Linked DNA regions of Homo sapiens: region 2 is linked to region 1. A link means that fine-mapping ties the variant in region 1 to the expression of a gene that starts in the linked region. Tissue or cell type: whole blood. Region 1 holds a variant in brackets; the other region holds the start of a gene. All regions are shown on one strand. Distances are between the middles of the regions.

Evidence for each region. PIP is the estimated chance that this variant, and not a neighbour inherited with it, causes the effect.
Region 2: it holds the start of ZSCAN29, and the variant in region 1 is fine-mapped to the expression of ZSCAN29 in whole blood (INTERVAL, PIP 0.99).

Annotation. Positions count from the first base shown.
Region 1 is chr15:43,126,006-43,128,765 of GRCh38, reverse strand. No RefSeq gene overlaps it. Among named protein-coding and RNA genes, the nearest start is that of TMEM62, 6.2 kb to the left of the region's middle. The variant G/A (reference allele first, on the strand shown) is at 1,104.
Region 2 is chr15:43,369,573-43,372,180 of GRCh38, reverse strand. ZSCAN29 (zinc finger and SCAN domain containing 29) reads left to right here and starts at 1,138. Exons shown (of 6, transcript NM_001372080.1): 1 at 1,138-1,623; 2 at 2,156-2,585. The coding sequence starts at 2,268. TUBGCP4 (tubulin gamma complex component 4) reads right to left here and starts at 1,080. Exons shown (of 18, transcript NM_014444.5): 1 at 749-1,080. The coding sequence starts at 826. RefSeq lists an enhancer at 950-1,069 and a silencer at 1,170-1,439.

The DNA of each region.
Region 1 (2,760 bases):
GAAAACAGGGTTTGAGAGCAGAGAACTGGTCTGACCACTAATTTACCAGGGCAGTTTTTCCCCACCCTAGTAAGCCTGAGGGTACTGCAGGAGACCAGAGCGTATCTCAGTCCTTATCTCAACCACATGAGACAGACACTCCCAGAGCCTCCGTTTATAGACCGCCCCCCAGGAATGCATTCCTTTCCCAGGATATTAATATTAATATTTCTTGCTAGGAAAAGAATTTAGTGATATCGCTCCTACTTGCACATCCATTTACAGGCTCTCTGCAAGAAGAAAAATATGGCTCTTTTTGCCCGACCCCACAGGCAGTCAGACCTTATGGTTGTCTTCCCTTGTTGCCTAATCATCGCTGTTATTCTGTTCTGTTTCAAGGTGCACTGATTTCATATTTTTCAAACACACATGTTTTACAATCAATTTGTGCAGTTAACACAATTATCACAGTGGTCCTGAGGTGACGTATATCCTTAGCTTATGAAGATAACAGGATTAAGAGATTAAAGTAAAAACAGGCATAAGAAATTATAAAAGTATTATTTGGGAACTGATAAATGTCCATGAAATCTTTACAGTTTATGTTCCTCTGCCACGGCTCCAGCCGGTCCCTCCGTTTAGGGTCCCTGACTTCCCGTAACATTAGAGAAACCTCAAAGATACAGGAAATCATTTTCTAGAAATGGGGCACAACAAGAGGAAGAATCATGCTGTTAAAGTATTTGGACAAGGTCCAAAGTCACAAAAGCCAGCAGTCTCAATTTCAGACACTGTACTCCAACCAAGCCACTTCACTCATGGTGTTCAAAGTGAATAGGAACAGGATATTATTTATTTAATGATGGTTAATGATTCTCCAGGGAAATACTGGTTTGACCAGCTAATCACTTCAATTCAGCATAAAAGGTGTCTCAGTTCCTGACAGTCAAAGCAGAAAGGTAAATAGAGTTCTTCTTATAAAGAAAGCAGGCAGCAATTCACCATGAAAGCAAACTTACCTAGAACCAAAGTCAAGGGAGAATGTATCACTCAGACATTTTACAGTACAACGTACATTGTCACCAACAGCCATATATTGAATTAAGTGACTCTCATAAACATAA[G/A]ATGCAGAAATTGTCTTTTTTTGGGCGAGGGGGGGTGGTCGGGGGGCGGAGGATAAAGTTTTGCTCTTGTTGCCCAGGCTGGAGTACAATTATGGGATCTTGGCTCACTGCAACTTCCACCTCCTGGGTTCAAGTGATTCTGCTTCAGCCTCCCAAGTAGCTGGGATTACAGGAGCCCGCCACCATGCCTGACTAATTTTTAAAAATATTTTTAGTAGAGACAGGGTTTCTTCATGTTGGCTAGGCTGGTTTCAAACTCCTGACCTCAAGTGATCCACCTGCCTTGGCCTCCCAAATTGCTAGCATCACAGGCGTGAGCCACTACACCCAGCCATAATTGTCTTCAAATCACTATCTTACTGACTTTGTTAAAAATACAAAAATATAGTATTAAATCGTTTTGTGAAGTCATTTATATAGAGAGCTAAAGTAATGTAATTAAAATAGGTTGCATATATATAAAGTTTGTTTGTTTGTTTGTTTGTTTGTTTTTTGAAACAGAGTCTAGGTCTGTCTGTCGTCCAGGCTGGAGTGCAGTGGTACAATATTGGCTCCCTGCAACCTCCGCCTCCTGGGTTCCAGCAATTCTTATGCCTCAGCCTCCCAAGTAGCTGGGATTACAGACGTGGGCCACGACGTACGGCTAATTTTTGTATTTTTTAGTAGAGACGGGGTTTCACCATGTTGGCCAGGCTCGCCTCAAACTCCTGGCCTCAAGTAATCTGCCCGCCTCGGCCTCCCAAAGTGCTGGGATTAAGATTATTTTTAATTATTTTTTTAAACTGTGGTAAAATAGGCTGAGCACAGTGGCTCACCCCTGTAATCCCAACACTTTGGGAGGCCAAGGCAGGCAGATTGCTTGAGCCCAGGAGATTGAGACCAGCCTGCACAACATGGCAAAACCCTGTCTCTACTAAAAATACAAAAAATTAGCAGGGTGTGGTGGGCGCATGCCTGTAGTCTCAGCTACCTGGGAGGCTGAGGTGGGAGGATCACCTAAACCCCGGTGATCAAGGCTGCAGTGAGCCGAAATTTTGCGCCACTGCACTCCAGCCCAAGCAATAGAGTGAGACGTTGTGTAATTCAGTGCAATTAAGTACATCCATATTGTTATGCAACCATCAGCCCTTAACATAATGGCTTCAAGGTTCATCCATGTTGTAGCATGTGCCACAATTTCCTTCCGTTTAAGGCTGAATAATATTGCATTGTATGTATAGACCACATTTTGTTTATCCATTCATCTGTTGATGGATACCTGAGTTGTTTTCCTCTTTTGGCTATTGTGTATGATGCTACAATGAACACTGGTGTGTACTAGACATTTTTAAAGCTTTTTTTTTTAACTTTAATTTTAGGTTTAGGGGTACAGGTGCAGGATTGTTATTCAGGTAAACTGCATGTCACAGGGGTTTGGTGTACAGATTATTTAGTCACCCAGATAATAAGCACAGTACCCAACAGGTTATTTTTTTTTCTGATCCTCTCCCTCCTCCTACCCTCCACCCTCAAGTAGGTCCGTGTGTGTCATTTCCCTCTTTGTGTCTATGTGTTCTCGTTGTTTAGCTCGCACTTTTAAGTGAGAACATATGGTATTTGGTTTTCTGTTCCTGCATTAGTTTGCTTAGGATAATGGTCCCCAGATCCATCCATGTTG
Region 2 (2,608 bases), 240 kb before region 1:
AATACCTAAGTGGACTAAATTATTGAGAGCATTAGATAACATTACTGGAAGCAGAAGCAGGTAAAAGTAGTTCAAATACTGAAGCCAGACAGACCTGGCTTCAAAACTAAGCTCTGTTAATTACTAGCTATGACCCCGATAGTTATTTAACTATTCTAAACCTAGCTTAATCTGTAAAATGGATAAGGTGGTTGTGAGGATTAAATAAGATAATGCATACGGAACATCATACATTCCTGGTTACACAAAGGCCCCCTACCAAGTGCTTTACCTAGTGCAGAAATTTTCTGGTAAAGGAGTAATGAGGGAAACACCACACGCTCTCGATTTCATTTATTTCCTTCAACAAACTTTACTGAGCGCTTACCATGTGTTTGGGAGCTGTGTATTTGGCCCAGTACTTCAAAACTCAAACAATGCACGTGTGAAAATAAATAGGAGAAAGTGCCTCCCACACTTCTATATCATTCCCCAGCAACTGTCAGACACCTGGACCTCAGGCCCTTTCCTCGCCCCGCCACAGGTGGGGCTCTTCGAGGTCTGCCCTCCGTTTTCTAGCCTAGGCCCGGCCTCTCTAGGTGTCGCATCAGCCTTGACCCTAAGGGGCTGCCCTCCAGTCACCTGTCCAGGGATACGCCCCCAGCCCTGGAAGCCCCGCTCGCTAGGTCCCTCAGCCTACTCCCCCAGGCGCTGGCTCAGGTCCCCCCTCCTGCGCTCCCTGGTTCCCGCGCTCTGCGCCGGACAGTACCTGCAGGCCACTCCGCTTGTTCCAGGTGAAAATGGACCCAGGGTACCCGCTCAGAGCCAAGAGCAGTTCGTGGATCATTCCCACGGCGGACCTCGAGTCCCTGGTTATGTCACCCCCTCCTCCAGCGCACCTCCAGGCGACCACGAGGGGAGTGCTTCCCCTTCCACACGCGCACCGGCCCCTGGGTCGGGCGGTTTGTGCCGAATCAACCCACCGAGACAATCGCTGCGGCGGAGCGGACGGGAAGCTGGGAAGGGGTCGCGGGGGAGTCCCGGAAGTTCGGCAGCTCAACGGGGTCCACCAGCTACTCCCGCCCGGGCTCTGCGGAGACTGAGTCGCGGTCGCTGCCCTCGCGCATGCGCCCTCGGTGCCCCGAGCCGCCCGCTCGGACTTCCGGTTTGGGAGCTGTACTTGGGAGGCTGGAGAGCCGGGGCCGGGGCCGGGGCCGGGGCCGGGGTCAGGGTCGGACCCCGAGTGGGTGAGGCTGGCCCGGAGGCAAGGATGCGAGGGGGTTGAGGGGCAGCTCGAGAGGGAGACGCTCCCAGGGGTGGGCTGGAGGGCGCCCTCAGGGCGCCTTAGCCGGGTCAGAGGCCTCTGGAGGGACCGCACGACGGCTCCGGGTTACCCGGCCGGAGGGAGCGGAGACAAAAGAGGCCAGAATCCCGCAGCCGCTGCTCCTTGGGCTGAGAGCTCTGCGTCCGCGAACCGGCAGCACCTGGAGCCTCTGGCCGACACCCGAGCCCGTCCTCAGGAAGCCCGTTACTACTGCTCCTCGGATTCCGTCTCTCCTGCCCAATGTGACTCTCCCCAAGCCCCCATGGTCCTCGCTTTGGAGCCAAAACCAGCTTCTCTCCTTGCGCGAGGTTTTCCGACAGGTAGCTCCCTAATCCTTGCTGAGCGGCTACTACTACGCGGGGAAAACAAAGACCCGAGATTCTGGACGTGATTTTTGCCTGGGGTGGGCTTTGGGAGTTGTGCAGCCCGAGGGGGCGGGGCGGACGCAGAAGGCCTCGGGAAGGACTGCGGAGATACTGGGGGAGATCAGCTGCGACCAGCTGGACAGAGGCTTTTTGTTGCCTTCAAGCAGGATGGTGACTTGTCTTTAGATCCTCTCGAACTCCAGCTCTCCTATATGGTTCGGACTCACTGTGCAACATTGGCCAGGGAAGTTAAATGGGATCGGATTTGGAGGAGGTGGGAGAGGGGCAGACAGTACTTTTATTCTCTGCTGCTTCCTGGGGCTGCCCTGGAAGTCAACCAGAAAAGCAGTTTTTGCAAAGTCTATTTACTGAAGATTGTGCTACCTTAGAAGGCCACTCGGAGCACATGGAAAGGCAGGCCAGCTCTGGCAAGACTTTAGACATATGAATGTATTCCTTCTGATAGTGCCATCTTTCTCTGCCCTAGGAAGAAACACCTCTTACAGTCATCTGCAGGGGATTCTCCAAGGACATGGGAAGATAGATGTAAGCCCTGGAACCCAGACTCCTAAGCGAAGGGAAGCTGCATTCTGCTATTAATGATGGCCAAATCAGCTCTAAGAGAGAATGGCACTAACTCTGAGACCTTCCGACAGCGTTTCAGGAGATTCCATTACCAGGAGGTGGCTGGGCCGCGGGAGGCTTTCAGCCAACTCTGGGAACTTTGCTGTCGGTGGCTAAGGCCGGAGGTGCGCACCAAGGAGCAGATTGTAGAACTGTTGGTGCTAGAGCAGTTCCTGACCGTCTTACCTGGGGAGATCCAGAATTGGGTACAGGAACAATGTCCAGAAAATGGAGAGGAGGCAGTGACTCTCGTGGAAGATTTAGAAAGAGAGCCTGGAAGACCTAGATCTTCGGTGAGAAGGGAGGGGGAATTCAA